Homo sapiens: one gene and its partner. The protein of the gene in region 1 interacts with the protein of each later gene in a pairwise test. Each region holds a gene or a part of one and is shown on either strand. Other genes may lie near its edges. The genes, in order: ZBTB7C and RETREG1.

Evidence for each region.
Region 2: the proteins of ZBTB7C (region 1) and RETREG1 interact in a two-hybrid assay, tested with the Homo sapiens proteins (one study listed by IntAct).

The regions. Positions count from the first base shown.
Region 1 is NC_000018.10:48,033,429-48,043,650, forward strand, and holds part of ZBTB7C (zinc finger and BTB domain-containing protein 7C), read right to left. Parts: intron 7,696-10,222; coding exon of another isoform or gene 7,680-7,695; coding exon 6,472-7,679; intron 1-6,471. UniProt on the Homo sapiens protein: May be a tumor suppressor gene.
Region 2 is NC_000005.10:16,611,930-16,622,660, reverse strand, and holds the start of RETREG1 (reticulophagy regulator 1), read left to right. Parts: upstream 1-5,663; 5' UTR 5,664-5,689; coding exon 5,690-6,009; intron 6,010-6,174; exon of another isoform or gene 6,175-6,735; intron 6,736-10,731. UniProt on the Homo sapiens protein: Endoplasmic reticulum (ER)-anchored autophagy regulator which mediates ER delivery into lysosomes through sequestration into autophagosomes.

The DNA of each region.
Region 1 (10,222 bases):
GAGAGGGCACCGGTAGCCAGCTTTCTGCCTCTGTGGCCAGAAGACTGGGGTATGCCAATGGGAGGAACTCAGCCCTAGGCAGGAGCTTTCCCTAATGGAGACATTTGTGGGAATGGGGGCAAGGGGTGGGAAGAGTAGGCAAAGCTCATGATAAGCCAGTGCTGGAAAAAACTTCAGAGGATCATCTAGTTTACCAGGCATACTTTACCACATTCTGATTCATGGTCTGAGTCAGTGGGCCCAGTAAGTGACACTATTAGCAGTACACTTCTCAGGACCTTGAAAACACTGATCTAATTACTTCCAAGATAAGGAAAGAAAGGACCAAAGAGGGAATGGTGTTCTAGGGCCACACAGCCTCCTTCTTTACACTGACCTTTCCTGTGGATACTGTGACGTGCATTGGAGCTGGAGGTGGTGCCGGGCACACTCCAAGAACTAGATCAGTTCCCTTCCCTGGTCTGGGCCTTAGTTTCCTGATCTCTAAAATGCGGGTTGGGCTGCATCCTTGGGGCCTCTAGTGCTCCATGAGTGTATGCATCTGGGTAATGGGCTTCTGCCAAATCTCCTTCTGGAGTCTGTTTGGCTGGCTGGCTTCCTTGCTGCTTCACATATTCAATCTGCCTGTGGAAGCAGCGTGAGTTTAGCTGGAATATGTTCTAGCTGGAATCTCAAGAGCTGAGCTCTTAGTTACTTCTCTGTAGGAATGGAGGTCTGGCAGTTCCACTTAAAACTTCCCAAGGCCCCCTTGTCCAATGGCCTGTGTGCTCACTTACCCCTTAGCATGGCTTTCTGGGCTCTTCACAAGCTCACTGCCATCTCCTCTGCCAGCTTCCTGCCTGCCCCCCATGGTACGCTGCCCCACACTCTGGGCAACTCTGCATCTTTGAACACCTGCAGGTATGAACTGGACTGCCGGTCCCCCAGTGCACAGCCCACCACATTACAGGGTGGATGCCCTGTAAACCCTGGCTCCTTCCCCGTGTGTGCATGTCTTGTGCTTGGACACTGATGCTCTATCCTTAGGGCCCTCCCAGAAGGCCAAGCCCAGAGCCAGGGTGCCCCTTCCTCCCAGCCCTCTTCCTCCCAGCCCTCCTCCTCCCAGCACTCCTCCCTGCACGTGGCATGGAGTTCTGGTACCTGCTTTGATGAGAACCTGTGGGATGCTCTTTCGTACTCTGCACAACACACAACACTGAATGTAGATAGAGAGGAGGCTCACTGCGCGTTTGGTGACTGACTAGTGGTGCCAATTTCAGAACTCTCCGACTACAAATCCAACATGCTCCCCTCTGGCCCTGGTCCCCTTGTCTGCCATCTCGTTCCATCTCTCTGCATCAGGGACAGCCAAGGACATATGCACCCAAGCCTCGGTCTACATGCCTCCTTTCAGCCTGGAGAGCTCATCGTCGGGAAAGTCATGTGAGTCCTCATGAGCTCATTCCCAGAATCAAAGAAAAGGGCTGTGGGGCCTTGGCCTGAGGTCTGTGGCCTCCAGAAAGGCTCCCAATCAGGATAATGCTTTCCCAGCAGCCTCTACCTGGACTTCTTGTAACCCGATGGTTTGAGACACACTCTTCCTGCTACCACTGCTAATGCCATTACATTATCTTAATAGGGTTCCCAGAGCTGCCAGGAGTGGGAGGACTACAAAGAAAATAGAGGGAAGACAAAAGCCAGGCTGCTGGCTTATCTGGAGAGCAGGCAGCTGTGGGGGCACAAAGGTGGTCAGCATTCGGCTGGCACTGGAGGAGGCAGGTGGAGACTAAAAGGCACAGCCTTCGGGGTTCAGCGGAACTGGAAAGCGTGCCTTGTCAGAGAGTGACTGCGGTGCAGAGGTCGTCCATCCCCACCCAGGACGGTGTGCTCTATGGGACCTCTGCTGTCTCTGGGCCAGTCTGTTTTCATTTTGCAGTTTCTTGCCTTCACTACTGTCCCCATCAGGCATGGCTGGGGCATCTCTGGGAGCCAGGCTGTGACAGGATGCAGGGGCTCCAGGAGGGAGACCAGCCAGCCATGCTCTCTAGGAGCTACTAACAGAAGGGCTGGGGGAGGCAAGGGGCAAGTCTCTATGGCCTGCAATCAAGGACCCATGTGGTGGGAATTAAGAGGCGGAAGATGCACAGGCTTTCACAGGGCCCAGGGCCAGGCCCAGTTGGCAGTGATGGCTGCAGATGGGGCAAAAAGGTGTGCGGGGGCCACCTGGACCTGGGATGTCCGTGGGCAGGGAAAATACCCACCAAGCATAGCAGTGTCCCTGTGCATGAAGACAAATGCTTTATCTTCCTGAGATCACATGCTCCCTGTTCTTCTAGGCCCTTCCTAGGCATCACCTCTGGCCGAAGCCTGCCATCCTAACCTTTGGCTCCTGGCTTCCAGACTTTCTGGGAAGAGAAGGGAAAGGATTCCTGATGAAGAGGATCTAAGGTAATCTTGGTCCAGACTGCCTCTGCCCTATGACCTGGAGCTGTTTCTGTGTCCCAAGTCAGACCTGAAAGGGACAGGAGCTGCCTCTGTGGCCAGCACAGGCACAAGCCTTTCCCAGGAGGAAAACGGTGTCTTTGAACTAAACCGAGGGAGTGCACAGGCAAAGGGAGCCCAAGTGGCTATGGGGTGACCAGAGCTAGGAAGGGACAGCATGGGGCCAAAGAAATAGTTTGGTTGATGCCGTTGAGGCCCTGCCTAGGGAGATTTCATATTTGGAACAGATCAGTGGTGGGACACCTGGTAGGACTGGCTGGAATCTAGAGCTGCCTCAGAGGTGAGGTTCCTGACACCAAAGAACAGACAATACCATTGTGGGGCGGCCTCTGTCCCTCCTCTCTAGACCCACAGAATGACAGCAGCAGGCAGGGCCTTAGGGGTGAAGGGGCTCTGCTGGAAGGATTCCCATGTCCTCCCCCTGGGTTGTGGCTGCTGAGGTCATTAGTACGTCCCCGTGGGGTGTGGACATTCTGGGAGCTGGCATCTGGGAGGCTGTGACTCAGAGCCTGGGCTGAAGGGCTACCATGCAGGGGAAGGGCAGGCCTCTCCAGCACCCCATGGGGTGGGGCGGGGAGGGTGTCACAAGACCCTGAGCTCTTCCCAACATCAAGGAGGGAGGAAATGGGGCTTTGCCAGGGCAGAAGCTCAGCTGTGATGAAGGAAAGACTCGGGTTCCAGAAGGGGAAATGGAAATCATGTCCGAGAGAAGGACCTGAGGGCAGCATGTCTGGGTCCTTGCTGCGGGGACAAGAGTGACATGACAGGGCCCAGTCTCAGGAAGTGGCGTGGCCTTGGAAGGGAGTCTGGGAATTCTGCGTCAACGAGGCAGCCGTCTCTGCTCTAAGTGGCTGCTGAAGAGCTTCCAGGTGGAAGGGGCAGGTGTTAGGAATCGCGTTGGGGAATTCAGCCAAAAATAAGGTCCCCGTGGAAAGGCTGCAGGGAGCCTTGGCCACAGGGAGAATTACAGGAAAACCTCAACCTGGACAGACCACGCTTGGGGCTCTTCAAGCACGGAAAAGAATCCTTGCCGGGCAGTTCCAGAGATGGGGTGAGAAGCAAAGGCCCAGTGATTCTGAAGAATGTGAGGGGGAGGAGAGTGGGGAGTGTCCCACAAGGACAGCCACAGCCCACAGTGAGCAATAAAGCCTCTGAAGGGAGGCAGGCTGGAGCCATCTCCTCCACCCTGCCTTTCCCCAGCTCGGGGTTTCTCTCCTCCTGGGAAGAGAAGGACCCAAGAGCTTGTCTGATCTTTTTCGGGAGGGTCAGAGACCAGTGGGAACAAGTGGTGGGGGTGCTGAGGGGGCTGCAATGCAGCAGCTTCAGCTGGAGACAGGCCTGGGGCCAGATGGCCGTCATTCTGGAGCAGGAGGAACCCAAGGCCAGATGGCTGGATGACCAGAGCTGCCCCACTGCCTATCATCTGGCTGGGAGTGGGGACTGCAGACAGAGAGGCCACCCCAAGTGACCATCAGGAATGTGCTGGGAGGGAGGAACCTGGAATGTCACCCTCCTATACAACACAGCACTGCTGCCCAAACCAGGACGCCCACTCCCAGAGAATGTCCCAGGGTCCAGAGGGTGAGAAGTCTGTCTGCAGTGACTACGCACGGTTAAAACCTTCCCTTAAAACAGGGTGCACAGACTGTCCAGACCTGGCGTGGACCTCACAGAAGGCTGTGCGTGGGGAAGGCCCAGAGGAAAGGGAGTGGGGAAGAAGGGAGATGGGGTCTCAGGGTGCCAGCAGGGCCACCGTGCGATATCCTGAGACACAGATAGATCCTTTTGGAATTGGAGTCACCAGCCTCGGTCTCCCCTGAAGGGAGAGGTGCTCCTGTTAGCCATCTGCCAAGGGGGCAGGCATGGGCAGTTAGGGAGGCAGAGCCTGCGTTGGCAGGAGAGGGCGCTCCAGGCTGATAACATGGCTGGCTTTCCTGATCTGGCCTGTGAAGAGCTTCCTGGCATCCTTAAAGTCATATGCAGGGGCTGGGACTCTCGGGCTGAAGCCAGGCCCCCCGTGAAGATGGGTGAGCTGTACTTGAATCTGGCTTTCACACGGTGCTCTGGCTTATCTCCCTCGGTATTCCTGTGCTTTTGCCAAGCCTTGTTCAGGTGTTCTGCCTGGTTCTGTGGGGCTAAGGTGAATTCAGGAGGAGGTAGGGGGCAGCATCACCCACGGTGGCATTGGGGTGGCAGGGCTGTCACTGAGGGACATCCAAGGGGAGGTGAATCTCAGGAACCTTGGGTCCATCTGCTCTGGGGAGTAACAGGAGCAGGGCGCCCTGCTGTCAGCATTGCCGGGTGGCTGGCCTAGCTCACTGCTAAGGGCAAGGGAACACATCCTGGGTCTGTGAGGCCCTTCCCCTCTGCTCCTGCAGATTCTCCCTCTACTGTCACTGGAAGCACCTGGGACAGATGCTGTCTGGGGTTCCCCTCACAGAAGCAGCTGTGAGCAGGACCCCAAGGCCACCTTGGAAATAATCAGTGTTTCCTTCAAAACAGTCCCCTGAGGAGCCTGCAGAGCTATTTCAGCCACACCAGTGTCACCTGAATGGATTTCTGAAACTCTTCTCTGGCAACTTCCAGTAGTTTCCAAGCAACCCAGAAGAACAGGTCTCATGACTTTAGAGGACTCATCTTTTTTTTTTTTTTTTTTCCTGGAAAAGCATAGTCCCTGATTTGATATCCAGTCTCATTCACAACCTTGCACTGTGTCCTTGGGCCAAAGCTTTGGGCCCACTGAGGAAAATCAAAAGAATGAGCTGCCACCAATTCCCAAAGATACATCTCCAAGAGGAAGTGGGGCAGCAGCACCGCCACCGGAACAAGTGTGGGTCTCTCAAGGTGAGTTCTCTGAGAGGGACAGTGGCAGGGTGGGGAAGGGACCTAGTCTAGTAAGTCATGTTCACAGGGCAGGCATCGCCAGGCTCTGTACACACAGGATACACTGAAATGACCAAACCCTGATGCCAGGCCACCCACCAGAGCCCTCCCCACCTGTGGACATGGCTGAAAAGATCAGCCTCACACCAGGAACCAGAGATAGCACCAATGGGCCGTATTTTCCAAAAGTGAGGCCTAGCCAAAGCTGGCAGTGGGCAGATCTGACCCCACGTCAACCCGCCAATCAGTTTTGAGTACAAAAGTTGCTGTGCAGAGTAGGCATATAACATATGTTTGCTGAATGGGACAGAGTCTATGAAAGATGAAAGGTTTATAATGTATTGATTTCAAATTTCAAATTTTATAACAGCATAAAGTTGTCCCCCTTCCTTAAATGGAAAGGCAAAGAGGAGAACATAAAAAGAGGCCCAGCCTTTAGGTCTGACCCCAAAATGATTGAGAGGACCTACAGGCATCTCTGCAGTCTACTGGTCACCGGCTTTGCTATTACACAGAGGCTGAGATTCCAGTCTCAGCTCTGCCATTTTCCAGCTGCACACATGCTTGGTCAGCTAGCCACTGGGAGATGTGTCATAAACAAAGTCAACCACGTCTCCCCATCTTCCCAGGGCCTAGCTGTGGTAAGCATGTACTTAAGGTGCCGAGGACGGCCCCTGGCATGCAGAATATGCTTAATAAAGGTCAGTGGCTGCTTCTCCAAATCAAACAAAGGGGCGGCACTCCATCTGGGGAGGGCCATCCATTCAAACTGGGTTCCACAAATTTACAGCTGGAAGGAGAAGAGGAAGCCAAGCAACCAAGGTGCTTGAGGCGCCTCACTTCCTTCCCAGCCAGAACAGCCCTGCTCTTACCTGCTTCATGTCATGGGCTTCCACCTAATATTGTATCTGAGAAAATACTGCAGCCCCTAAAAAGGGCTTGAAAGTCACAGCACCAGGTGATGCCTAGCACCCCTGCTAGCCACGAGCCTGCATGTGTGTGGGATCTATCTGGGTCTCTGTCTCCACCGCCAGCCTCCCTGCCCAACTCTGCTGTCCCCCATGGCCTCTGGCCCCGTGCCCCACACCCGAGGGCTGCCATGCGCACCTGGTGAAGCGGACCTCGCAGATGGTGCACATGTATGGCTTCTCCCCGGTATGGGTCCTCATGTGCCGCGGCAGCTTCCCGGCCCCCATGATGACTTTGTGGCAGATGGGGCACTGCTGAGAGGCCTTGGGCTTCAGCTTGCGCTCTTCTACCAGGGGCCAGGGTGGGAAGAGGCCTCCCAGGTGGGTGGCACTCAGGAAGTTGAGATAGGCACCGTAGTCGTTCTCCGCCTTGATGGGTCCCAGAGGCCCCCCCGGCAGGTCAGGGAACATGTCCTTGAAGAAGTCATTAGGGAAGGGTGGCGGTGGGGGTGGGGGCAGCTCCTCCTTCTCCTCCTCCTTGATCTTCCGATTCTTGATGACCAGATCCAGTGGCCCACTGTCCATGGGCTGCTCAGGCAGCTGGGCAAAGGCACCGAAGTCCCCTGGCCAGAGGTGTGGAAAGAAGTCCGGGGCGAATGGAGACAAGGAGGGTCTCCTGTCGGGGATGTTGGCCTTGGGGTACAGGTTCTCCCTTAGCAGAGATTCGATGGAGAAGTCCCGGATCACCCCCAGATGGCCAGGACTGCCAGCCTGGAAGGAGTCAGGGAAGTCCCTGGGGGTGTCTGAATAGGCCTTCTCTGTGAGATGGTCTGTCTTGGAAGGGCTTTGGTGGCAGCTGATGTCCTGGGGGTCAGGCAAGTTTTCTTGGTCAGCAAAGTCCTCCGTGTCATCATCGTCATCCTCCTCCTCTTCCTCCTCCTCCTCTTCGTCCTCCTCATCATCATCATCTTCGTCGTCGTCATCGTCCTCCTTGTCATCCTCCTCCCCCCCGTCCCCCCCAGGCTCCATGATCTCCAGGCACACGTTCACGATGCACTGGATCTCCAGCATCCTGGCTGCGTTGAGGATGTGCTTGACATTGCCAGCGGTGATGGTGAGCGTGGAGGTGTAGGCGAACTCCAGGATAGCAGCCAGAGCCTCAGGCTGGACAAAGTCGATCTCATAGACGTAGGGCTGGCTGGCTAGGGTGCCGGCTGTGAAAAGCTTCTTGAAGTACTTGCTGCAGGCAGCCAGGACGGAGCGGTGGGTCCGATACTCCTGCTCCTGCACCACCAGGAGCACGTCACACAGCAGGCCATCGTGCCGTTGCTCATTGAGGCTGCACAGGACCTCACTGCTGTGGTTGGGGAAGGGAATGCCAATGAGCTCATCAATGTCATTGGCCATGTTCTCAGCCAGAGCCCTGCAGAGACACACAGAGAAGAAGACTGGGTTAGTGAGCGTGGCCCCAGGAGGGGTCTCAACTCTAGGACTCTGAGCCACCTCCTTGGCATAAGGGCTCCCTGTCCACTGCAAGGCCAGTCCTCCTACCTCTTAGCCTTGCCAAATCTCACCTGCAATTCACAGCCTGGCTTACAAGCTGGGGCTTTTCTCTGGACCCCTAAGACTCTTAGGGATAGGCTTCTCACTGGGCAGCTGGTGTCAGCTACTCACCAAAGGCTGCAAGCCTTCTCTCAGGCTTGGTGTTACTGATTTCCACTTTGCCAACATGCAGTTGCAGAATACAACTGCAGGATGAAAAGCCTCATGAACCTAGCTGTTGCCTTGGCTGCAGGAACAGGACCCACCTCTGTGGGGCAAGGACCTCTCAGTGCTTCTGCTGAGAAGATGCTCTGATTTGTCTCACAAATCCTCTGATTCTGTAACAGACTTACACTTTGCACTGGCTACTAGGAAGCTTAAAACAAATTTCGTGGCCCATTTTCAGCAAGTAAATGGGGGCCTTGTGGTATGTTTTGCTTCCTGACCTTACTCGTTCATTGCAGTTGAAGTTTCCTTCCATTTGTAAATCTTGATCCTTTTTTTAAAAAAAAAACACTAACTTCCTATATGTGTATATCTGAGAGTGATTTCACCTATAAATATTTAAATTCAATACAAATATAAATGCAATATTCAATATAAATATAATGCAATATAAATATAAATTCAAGTACATTGTTAGTTAATTTTTCATGTCTAAATTCTGTCAGCCTCATGAAAATATCAACCCCTGTGGTGAGAAGCGTCTTCTGAGACACCTTATCATTGTATATGTTATACATAAAGTATGGCCAGTGGCAGCCACCAGAAGAAAGCAGGGCACGACAGGGGACAACTGGCATCCCTTCCTTTCAGGAAGCACAGCTCACAGCCCAGGTGAACACAGTCAACTGGGACAAAATGTGGCATCTGCCAGGGCAGGTAGGGGCGTCCAAGGAGAGAATATAGTCATGGGTTGTTTGTTAGTTTCTGGTTGGGCCAGTAAAGCCCCTTCCTCATCCCTCTTTTCCACTTATCACTAGAGACAGAAACTAAACAAACACCATGGCTTCAGGCTGCTAAAAGCCTAAAACAAAACAAACAACAAATCAGAACAACAACAACAATAAAATAAGGTGGGTTGGACAAGCTTCATAGGGCTCTTCTACTTACAGCAAAGCTTCAACATGGCTCATCTAGATAAATCCTAGCAAAGCCCTGGCCCTTATCTTGGTACAAATAAAGTGGGGAGAAAACAAAAAGGAAAACAAATCCTAAAGCCCCACGCCCCAGTGGGAAGAGTTCTGGAGATCCTTACACATTTATCTTCTGGATGTTTCTGTCCTGGGAAGGCAGAGGCAGGGGGAGGGGAGGAGTGAGAAGTATACGCTCATAAAGTGTGAGTGGGCACTGGGAAGGCAGCAGGCATGGAGGATGCTGGGTGCCCCTCCGCTGCCCTCACCTTCTCCTCCACCATGGGGCAGCCCAGGCGTTCCCTAAGCAATCCCACTGGCCAGGTGTTCAGGAGGCTTCCCAGAGCTAAGGCCTCACTGCTTTCCCACCTTCTCATCTTTAAAAGGGCCAGAGACCCTGGCAGTCCATGCATTCATTCTCTAAATATTATTGGGTAGTCTCCCTGTGCCAGGCTCTGTACTGTACTCTGGGGATGCACAGAGAACAAATCAAGAAGGCCTCTGCTCTAACAGAGCTTAGAGGGACATAACAACTGCAATAAAAATGTACAGCAAGATTCACCAAACAGAGTATACAGATGGCAGATAAGCCATCTAATCTGAAAAGATGTTCAATATCATGAGCCATTAGGGAAATTCAAATTAAAACTATCATAAGACATCACTACATACATAGGATAGTGGCTAAAATAATAAAAAAATACTGATAACACCGAATGCTGGTGAGGATGTGGAGAAAAGGATCACTCGTATATTGCTGGTAGGAATGTAGAATGGTACAGCTATTCTAGAAAATGATTTGGCAGATCTTAAAAAACAAAATATGCAACCGCCATATGACCCAGCAATTGAATTCTTGAGCATCTACCCCAGAGAAATGAAATCTTATGTCCATGAAAAACTCATACACAAATGTTCATGGTCACTTTGTGCACGATAGTGAGTAACTGGAAATAACCTAGACATCCTTCAAAGGTGTATGGCTAAACATTGTGGTACATCCATGCCAGGGAATACTATTCAGCAATAAAAAGGAGTGAATTCTCAATATGTGCAACAGCCTTGATGAATCTCCAGGGAGTTACGCTGAGTGAAAAAAGCCAATCCCAATGGGTTAGATATTGCATGATTCCATTTATATAACATTCTTGAGATGATAAAGTTATAGAAATGGAGAAGAGATGAGGGTTGCCAGGGACTAAGGAGGTGGTGGTGGTGGGAGGGAAGTGGGTGTGGCTATAAAAGGGCAACAGGAGGGATACTTGTGATGGAAAT
Region 2 (10,731 bases), on another chromosome or scaffold:
CCAGTGAATTAACCTACAAGCACATATACTGAACTGTGAACTATAATAAGTAGAGCCGTATTTCTTGGATGGTTCGGGAGACATTCGGGTTTCACAGTGCTTATGGGTTCCCCATAAGCAAACACCCGACTGCAGCATGTATGCATAACCGAAGAGTGCACCCGTGACATGGTCTGACTGCAGGGCCTGCAGCCATTTTCAAAGCCTCAAGCATCGCCAGATTTTGTGCCTGATTTCTAATGAACTAAAATTAGTAACAGGTGACAAGCCAAATATACACTTGGAAGGGTTGTGGGATGTCACTTTCATTGCTATTCCATTGCATTCCACTCATCTATTTTTAGCATGGAAGATACCCCCTTGAGACTGGAGGCCTGATTTGGAGACCTGAATTTAGAGAGAATCACAACACAGTTTTGCTTCAAGGATGGAAGTCAGGCTGGAGTTTCCAGGACCTCAGGACACTACTGCTTTGATTCTATCACTTCCTTGGTAAAAACAAACAATAACAACACAGAAACCCACAAACTCTAGGAAATCTCTACTGCTCAAAGTTTTTTTCTAAAATTCTGTCGCTGATACTTAAAACTTTTATTTGATCTATTTATTCAAAAGTCTTATCACATACCATGACCCCATGCAGTCGCATGGAACTGGCCAGCGCCTTTGAACTCTTCTTGGTTGTGCCCTCTGCCAAGTTCTCCTACAGGCCATTCCGTCTGCCTGGATCTGTCTTGTTCAGGATGCCTGCTGGTCTCTGAGCTGCAGACCTCTGTACCCAACAACCTTACTGGCATCTCCAGAGATATCCAAGTGCAGATCAATTTTTAAAAATGAAACTTGTCAGCCTCCCTTCCAGACTGGCTCCTTCTCCTCCCTCATTCTAGAGAATGACAAGGGAAAAGTCTCTGAGAGTGCCTTCCCTCTGCCAGGCTTTATATCCTCCATGGTCTGGAGATACCTTTCTAAAACACAGGCTAGCCCCTCTGTGTCCTGCTGCAAGCCCACCCATGGCTCCCTGTTGCTCTCAGGACAAAGCAGAAGCTTCTAGCATCATACAGGAGGAGCCCCACTGTGAGTAGCCTCCTGCTCCTCCCACCCCATCCTCCAGCTTAGATCTCCTCCAGGTTTCCAACCAGGGCCAGGCTGGCTCCTCTCCTGCTTCCAGACTGTGCACACCATGCTTCCCCATTCCCTTTGCCCAGCGCCTTCTTCAGGGTCTTTATCCATTGTCTATACTCTAAGCACCATGAGAGAAATAAGCAGTCCTGTTCATCTTACCAGAAGCCCACAGTCAGTCTTTCAGGAATGGCTGATGACTAGTGAATGAAGCAATGAAATAATGAGTGAATGATACGCAAGTACAATGATGCAGAACCAGGACCATCAAAGGGGGTGGGGGGAAGAGGTTGCAGCAAGGACCCGACAGTGCTTTGTCTGCTGGTTCAGATTCCTGTTGGGAAGGGGTTGGAAGTTAATGTCCTGCAGTCACCCCTGTGGATCATAGGTGTGCGTGTGTTTGTGTGTGTACCTGGGGATAGACAGGTAGGCTTCCTTGGGGGATATACTCATGTTGTCATGTGACCTCCGTTCTTTTCAGTTAACCATTTTGAAGCCTTAAAAAAAAAACTTCTTTTAGGTATTAGGGAGCAATACCCCAACTGATATCTGGGTGGCCAACATCTTGGCCACCATCTTTCTGGTAAGCACATCCCTTATGGAATGCTTGTCAAACACAGACTATGCTAGTTTGAATATTTCCGTCTGTATATGCACAACAGACATTCAACATAAGTAGAAATAGTGAATTCCTTCTGTGAGCCAGGCACTGGGCTGGGCCTTGGAAGCCAGGTTAGAGACCCGGGAGATGATCTTCCTTCCTTTCCAATTGCTCTGTGCCTGCTGATGCTGTATGATACTCTTATTTATCTGTGCTTAGAGTGAACTATCCAGGTTTTCTTAGTGAGAAGAAAATTATGGAAACTTAGGAATAAGGAGCAGAGGATATAGCAAGGGGAGGAGGGTAGAATTAGTTTAATAAAAGTACCAACACAAAAAAAATTCTATCTGCAGGCTAATAAACGATACAACATATACACAAGTGTATTAGTTCATTCTCATGCTGCTATGAGGAAACACTTGAGAGTGGGTAATTTATAAAGAAAAGAGGTTTAATTGACTCACAGTTCCGCATGGCTGGGAAGGTCTCAGGAAACTTACAATCACGGCGGAAGGCATCTCTTCACAGGGTGGCAGGAGAGAGAATGAGTGCTGAGTGAAGGGAGAAGCCCCCTTATAAAGCCATCAGATCTTGCAAGCACTCAATATCACGAGAACAGCATGGGGGAAACCGCACCCATGATTCAATTACCTACACCTGGTCCCACCCTTGACACGTGGGGATTATTACAATTCAAGGTGAGATGTGGGTGGGGACACAGAGCCAAACCATATCAACGAGCCTCCTTTTGTTTAAGGAATCATGGAGCTACTGTAAGATTCTAATATATAATATTGTAGAGAAAAGAAATTTCCCCAAAATATTATGACTAGGGGGCTTTTCCCCATCATTCTAAGTCTTAGCTTGATTTTGCCCTAGGAGACTTCCTATAGTGGGAATTAATTATTCATAATTTTTCCTCTCCTATTACAAGCTTTCCACATACTCTTAGATGAGAAAAGTGAGTGGCCTCTGTTAGAGAGTTCTTATGTGCATTTGGACTTTCTTTACTGGAGCTGTCTCATTTTCTAAACTCTCATTCAGTAGCTAGAACTTTTTTTTTTCTCAGACACGTTTCCAGTTTCCTTTTCTCAGATATATATTGTCAAATCATCTAGCTCACTAGTGTTAATCACTCTGTTCCTAATATATAGCAATAAAATTTCAGAAGAGAATCTTAGTAAGATTACTTGCAGGAGTTCAAGAATGTGGCGTGTTCTTAAAACTAGGGGACAAGGTTGATTTCAACCATTGTTAGCATTATGTTTCTGTAATCTTAGCCCTGAATAAATTACTCAAGCATCACAAAGATCATTAGACAAACAACAAAACAACAACAAAATCCCACCCAGCAGCACCATTTGTATGTCTATGCCAGTGTCTACTTCTGTCATACAGTTTGTAAGTATTAGAGGTCGGAGGTGAAAAGGAAAGGTTAATTAGCCCAGCCTTTTATGCAAAACAGGTTGCATAGCATTTTCTCCATAGTAATTTTGAGAGAGAGAGAAAGGATAGACTTTACAACACATAGCTGTGGGGAAGGAGGTTTATTATTAAACAGAGATAATAAATAAGTGTTGGAAACCACACACAGCAACTGGAGCTTAGCTTTTATGTGTCTTGGTTGCCAGCAGCTTTTACTACTTCAACAGATCCTGACAACAATAATTAGAATTCAAGGGAAGCAGGAGGAAGGTGATTAATCTTGCAAACCCATTTCTGGTAGCACATCAGCACTGGTCTGGGGAACGGGGACACCTGGTTCTTCCTCTCTCCTGCCCCATGTTCTCCACACTGGCTGCAGCACACATCTGTCTAGTGACAGATTTTAGAATAGCAAACCCTGGGCTGTATCAAGCGCCAAACAAAGGCCAAATGACACAATAAAAGCATCATTTATCTTTCAAAAACTTCTCCGCTACTGCCAAGAGGGAGGACCCACACCTGGGAAAAGATTGTCTCTCTTATATGGAAGAAACCTGAATTGTTTCCACGTTGCTTTTTCCTTGACACCCAGGCCACTTTCCATCGGGTTGTCAGGATACTCCTAAGAAGGGGAGTCGGAAATGCCAGATGTTCTGTATCACCTTTAGTTAAAAACCAAGCCTCCTGTTACTAGAGACCATTCAATGTCCACTATTCCCTTTGGTGAGTTACTTAAGGAACTGTGCGTCTCCACCTGCAACCCCATGCCTCCTCTCCTGTTGAATTCCCAACAGCAGTTATTGCCCCTGTCCCCAATCCCCACACTAATGGGGGCCCTACAATTTAGGGCAGAGGCCATTTATTACAAAACGCTCTTGAAACCTGATCCCTCCACTCCTCCCCTAATTTTGGATGCACAGTTTAAGTAAGGAATCTCTTAGCACTTAGCGAAGGCTTCTTCGCTGTGGCAGATATCACAATTGTAACTGGGCCCTCATCAGACTGGGAGCTTCCTGTGGGTGGAAGCTGCATCCACAGAGCTTAGCAATGCTTTGTGTACTCGGTAGGTGCTCAGTAAGCCTTTGCCTGGGCTCTGGGAATATAACTCCTTTGAAGTACAACATACAAGCAGTAAAGTGCAGACACCTGCAGTGAATGTACAGATCAATGGATTCCACGTGTGTATACACAGAGGTTTACAATGGCCACCCAGAGGAGCGTTACAGAACATTCCCCTAGAGACTCCCTTGACGCAGGGAATTTAATTGCCCTCCCTTCCATCCTGTGCAGGCAGGCTGGTTGCCAGTAAAGGGATATGAGATGCCCTGATGCATCCGCAGACAGAACCCTTAGTATGGGGGGGAAGGACCTGTCATTCTAGAGTAAAAGTAAGACCAGGAAGATTAAAGAAGACAAAAATTTAAAAATGCAAATGGTGAAAAGCATAAACAACTATTTTCCTCTCTCCCCACACTCACCCAGAAGCACCGGGGCCAAAGAGAGGGCATGGGAGGTCTCAGGATCCCCTGCCGCCCCACCACTGCCCTGATGCCCGCTTGTGACGCAGAGACCGGAGTGGCTCTGAAATTACTGTCTTCAAAGCAGGCCAAACCTTGCTTGACACGTGCAAAGTTCCAATCTCTTGCTTCTCAGCTCCCCGCACGCGCGGGCCAACGTGCACTTCTGAGCCAGATCACCTAGCCACAAGGAGGGGGAGAGAGGGGGAGATAGGAGGAGAGAGGGGAAGATAGGGGGAGAGACGGGGGAGAGAGAGGGAGAGGCAGAGAGAGAGAGAGAGACAGAGAAGAGAAAGGAAGCACCTGAGACAGAGAGAAAGAAGAGAGAGAAAGGAAGCAGCTTCCCCCAACGCTGCGGCCTTGTGTTTCCTCCCGTGTCAAACGAGAGGGCCCCAAATTGACCCCAAATGTTTTTTCTTCCTTTCTCAATCCAACATTTATACCAGCACGTTATTTCCAGGATGCCCAGGACCTCTGCTATGGTTGTGCTGCTGTCCCTGCAAAGGCGCTGGGGATGGCCGAGGTGGGGGATGTCTCTGGGGGCTGAAATACGCTGCCAGGGGAAGGGGCGCCCCGATACCACCCTCAGTGGCTGCTGGTTGGGCGACCGGTGGCCCTGGCTTGAGAAAGTGAAAATGTCCAATCTATTTTGCCTGGAGCCTTGGGTCTCTTTTGGATACGGAACCGAGCAGCAGTCCTCCACTTCGCCCTCTCCCGCCGCTGCAAGGGAAAAGGTCGTTTTCCTCGAGTCCCGGAGAGGCCCTCCAGGAACCCAGAGCCCCCCGGGGACACCGCCCAGCTCCCGGCGCCCGGCCCCGCCCCTGCGCGAACTCGGCCGCACCCACTTTCCCGGGCGGCTCCCCCTCCGTGGCCTGTGGCGTCACAAGGCCCCCAGCCGCCTGTGCCCCGCGGTGCGCGCCCCGCTCCGGGACCTGCCGCCACCGCCGCCCCGCCCTCGGCGGCACCCACACCCAGGCGCGCCCGCGCGCGCGCCCGGCCCCGTCCCTGTCTGGAAGCACAGCTGAAGATGGCGAGCCCGGCGCCTCCGGAGCACGCCGAGGAGGGATGCCCGGCTCCTGCCGCCGAGGAGCAGGCGCCGCCGTCGCCGCCACCGCCCCAGGCATCCCCCGCAGAGCGGCAGCAGCAGGAGGAGGAAGCGCAGGAAGCTGGGGCGGCGGAGGGCGCGGGGTTGCAGGTGGAGGAGGCCGCGGGCCGGGCGGCGGCCGCGGTAACCTGGCTGCTCGGGGAGCCGGTGCTGTGGCTGGGCTGCCGCGCCGACGAGCTGCTGAGCTGGAAGAGGCCGCTGCGGAGCCTGCTCGGCTTCGTCGCTGCCAACCTGCTGTTCTGGTGAGAGCTTGGGCAAGGTGGGGGCGCTGAGGAGGGCAGGTGACCTTGGGGCGCCCGGGGCCCCGGGGACCCAGTGCAGGGGGAGCCCGCGGGACACTGCGGAGGAAGAATTGTCAGCCCTGCCCCACTTTCTCGGCCACCTGTCTCGAACAGGTAGACACTCACCGCAACTTTCCTCCGGACGCACGTCCCTGTGAGCAGTTGTCGTTCTCCGTGTGCGGATCCAGCCTCAGATGCGAGGTGGTCGGCCGACCCTCAGGCACCTGCACCTACAGGTGTTCCCATCGTGCTTGAAAACTTCGCCCCTGCTTTCTAAAACTCTGAGGTCTTGACCTGCTCGCCCAAGCTTGCCGGAGCAAACGTGCTTGAACGTGTCTTGGTTCTTGCAGCCCCAGCAGGCATATCTGGACCAGATTAGGTACCCGTTCAAAACGGTGCCGCATTCATCAGTCACCTGAGATGGGCCCTGAATGATTTGTTTTTTCCTTCCCCTGGAGCGTTAGGTTTACTGTGTTTACTCCCTGATGAGAAAACGGGAGGCAAACAAGCAGGTGGAGTATGCCCAGCACCCACCCCCGGGTGTGCACAGTGTGGAAAACAGGCATATTTTTAGGTGAAGTACAGGGAGAACACACGGGAATGCTCAGCCCCTGAGCAACAGGTTTGTCTCTCCAAAAAGCGCTCTTCAGAAAGGCCAGGGAAATGTCTGTCTCCTTCGTTGAAAGTGGTGTCCTGTCATCCGTTACCACGCTATTGAGGGCGGAGAAAAACCTTCTTTGTTTGCTAAGTGTCCTCATAACAAACATGACCTACACAGTGCAGAATAATCAGACTCCGGTAACAGATACCTTGTTACAGGACAGAGATTTCTGAACCTTAAAGTTGAGAAATAAATAAATTGCACAAAATAGACAGCCTGTCATTTTCTAGGTTAACTTGAGCAAGATGAATATTTTCCTCAGATCTCTGCTAGTCCTGGTGTTTTCTCTTAAAACTAGCTGTATCTTGTCGGAGGTCCCTGAAAGTGAATTAACTTTGGATCTCTTAGGTATCTGTGTTTGGAATAGAGTTTATTCCAAATCTATCTTATTATGGAGTGAATGCGAGCACTCAAATAAGAAGGACATATTGTCTTATGCTAGATTGGGCAATAGTCTAATAGTCTTAGGGCTGTGTCTCACTAATGTTTACGATGTTTTTAACATTTTATTTCTTTTTCTTTTCTTTCTTTCTTTCTTTTTTTTTTTTTTTTGAGATGGAGTCTCACTCTGTCGCCCAGGCTGGAGTGCAGTGGCGCGATCTCGGCTCGCTGCAAGCTCTGCCTCCCGGGTTCACGCCATTCTCCTGCCTCAGCCTCCCGAGTAGCTGGGACTACAGGCGCCCGCCACCACGCCTGGCCAGTTTTTTGTATTTTTTTTAGTAGAGACGGGGTTTCACCGTGTTAGCCAGGATGGTCTCGATCTCCTGACCTCGTGATCCGTCCGCCTCGGCCTCCCAAAGTGCTGGGATTACAAGCGTGAGCTACTGCGCCCGGCCTTAACATTTTATTTCTTAATTTTAAATTTTATTTCTTTAAAAAACTAATACAGTCTCACAGTGCAAAAGTTTAAAGGTACAAAAGGGTAAGCATTTTGAAAATCTCTTTCTCATCCCAGTCCCTGGCCGCCCAGTTTCCTCACGGAGGCCAGCAATGTTGCTAGTTTCCTGTGTCTCTTTCCAGATAGTGCACATTTCAGCAAATACACCATATTCTATGCAAATTGTGGAATAACATATGAGCTCTTCCTTTTCCTAGTATTTCTTGGTGATTGCTTCCTTGTTCTTTTTCAGCTGCTTCAGAATTCTATTGTAAGGATGTCTCAAATTACTTAACCTGTCTCCTACTGAGGCAGTAATGTTTCCAAGCTTTTGCTATTTCAGCATTATAGCTAATGACCCTGTACATGCATCATTTTGCATATATGCAAGTATTTTAGAGAACTTCCCAGAAGTGGAATTGCTGGGTCAGAGGGCATGTGCACTTGTAATTTTGATGGCTGTCACCATATTGCATGCAGCTCCTTAGGGTTCTAACAATTTATACTCCCACCAGCAATGTGTATGACTGCCTGCTTTGCCACACTCTTGCGAAGAATATTTTATGAAACTTTTTGATCCTGCAAATCTGATAGGTGAAAAAGACTATCCCAAAATGATTTTATTTTGCAGTTCTCTGTGATTGAGCATTTTATCTTATGTTTAAGAACTACCACATTTACCATTTATCAGCATTGTTTGTTTATAAATAACCTTTGTCTATTTTTTCAAGTAGGCCAGTGTTCTTTTCCTTATTGATTTATAGGAGCTGTTTTTATATTAAAGACTTTAGCCTAATTTCTGTAACATGAGTTGCAAACTTTTTTCTATGATGTTTTCTTTAATGACACCTATTGAAAATAATGTTTTTGCATAAAATAATTGAAAGGCATATTTGATAGTATCCAGGGGTGTTTTCTTCCATCCATTTTATTTATACTGACGGAGAGGAAAACATTGGCCAGCCATTCAGCCTAGATACAGCCTTCTCCTTATCTGTTTTATTTCATCTCCTGTTTGTGGCATCTGCATTCCATGCATGTATTTTCTTTGACAAAAATGACTGTCCTGTTCTTTAAGTTCAGAATTACTTGTTGCTTTTGCATTATAATTCATTGGAATTTATGACCCATTTATTAATGTCATTAAAATTTTGTTTTTTTTTCCCTTTTATTTGTTGCTCTGGGGGTTAAAATGATTTTCAAGGACATTACGTTTTCTTTAAATAATGTATTTCTTCTCAAATGATCTTAAATTATGTGATACTCTAACCTTCTGTGTCTTGGGAACTCTAAAGCACTGTATTTTCTATGAGAAAAAAAGATCAATTTTAAAACTGTGGGGAACCCAACCAAATCTGTCTTAAGCAATGGGATGTTGTTTTCACTTTAATTGATGTATTTCATTTTTGTGGAAGTAAACTTTTTAAAGATATATTTTTGAATGATTTAGCACCTGGCATTAGCAGTGGGTTTTAGGAGTCTGAATTTGACTCAAAAGCTTCAACATTTATTACCTGCCCATTATCTGCAAGATTTTGGGCAAAAATTGTGACACAGCCGTAACCAATGGGTATAACTAAAAGTTGCATGAATTAAGTGTGGTGGAAGATTCAGGAAAGGATAATTCATTTTGATATGGTTTTGGGGAACGTGGTATTGTGGATGGAAGAGATTGTGGGGTTCTTAATAAGGAGATCATGCTTAAACCTCAGTGGATAAGAATGATTTGGGAGATCTAGTAGATGATCAAGAGCATTCTAACCCTGAGGAATACAATGAACACAATAGCATCTTGAAGGTGTACCTAATATTTCAACCACTACACAGTAAACAGATGCAATGGCAGCATGGGCTGGTAGAAAATGTAGTGGGAGATAAGGTTGGCTAGGTGGTTTGTGGGGGCAGTAGTTGCCTCAGATGCTATGTTGTGTGTTTGGATTTGTTTTTTCTGTAGGCAACAGGGACCAAAAAAAAAAATACTTTGTAGAAGTATCCACAAATAATTTAATGGATAAGTACACTGTGGTTCATTTATTTATTATAAATTGTGATACCATATAACAATGAAAATACAGCTTTAGCAACAACAGGGATGAATTTTACAAATGTAATTTTGGTCAAAAGATGCACAAAGTAATATATGCTGAATGATTCAATTAAGTTTTAAATGGTGCAGGAACTGAACAGGATTGGTTAGGGATACACACATAGGGGATAAAACTACAAAGAAAATAAAAGACATTCTCGAATCCGAGACGTGCAGGCACACACACACACATATGCATTCTTATCTATGGTATATTTTATGAAAAATACTGAAATATGAAAAAATGCTAAAAAATGATATTCATGAGAACTCAGAGGAGTTTGGTAAAATAGAGGCCACATAGAGTGCCTGTCTCAAAAAGCAGGGTTTCCACAACTGAAGTAGATTGGGTAACAGTCCCATAGTTTTGTGGTGATGAGGGGCCTCAGATAATACTATCTCACTCATTTCACCAATGAAGAACATGTTTTTAGAATTTTTTCCTTCATTTAAAATTTTATTTATTTAAAAATTAACTAACATAGCCTTACAGTTCAGATGTTTAAATGTACAGAAGGGTAAACATTTTGATGTCTTCCCACGCCTGTCCCTGTCTACGCAGTTTCCTCTCAGAAGCAACCCATGTTGTACTTGTAAGCACATCCTGAAATGGAATGAGCCCAATGTAATAGAAAATGTTGGTTTTTTTTTAAATATCAACTTTTTGTGGTTTACCACCAATAAAATGCCCATACTGTAAGTATACAGTCAAATGTATCATATGTGCCTGTGTAACCATACTGGCAGTTGAGATCTAGAATATTTCATCACCCTTAAAGGCTTCTTTGCATCCCTGTTCTATCAGCACCCACCCCTGGGGACTGATCTGTTTCTGTCACTGTTGACTAGGTTGGACTTCCCTAAAGCTTTGTATAAATGGTGTTATTTAGGGTGATAGGGTGATGTCCTTTTTTTTTTTTTTTTGAGACGGAGTCTCTCTCTCTCTCCCAGACTGGAGTGCAGTGGTGCGATCTTGGCTCACTGCAACCTCCACCTCCTGGGTTCTAGCGATTCTCCTGCCTCAGCCTCCCGAGTAGCTGGGACTACAGGCACATGCCA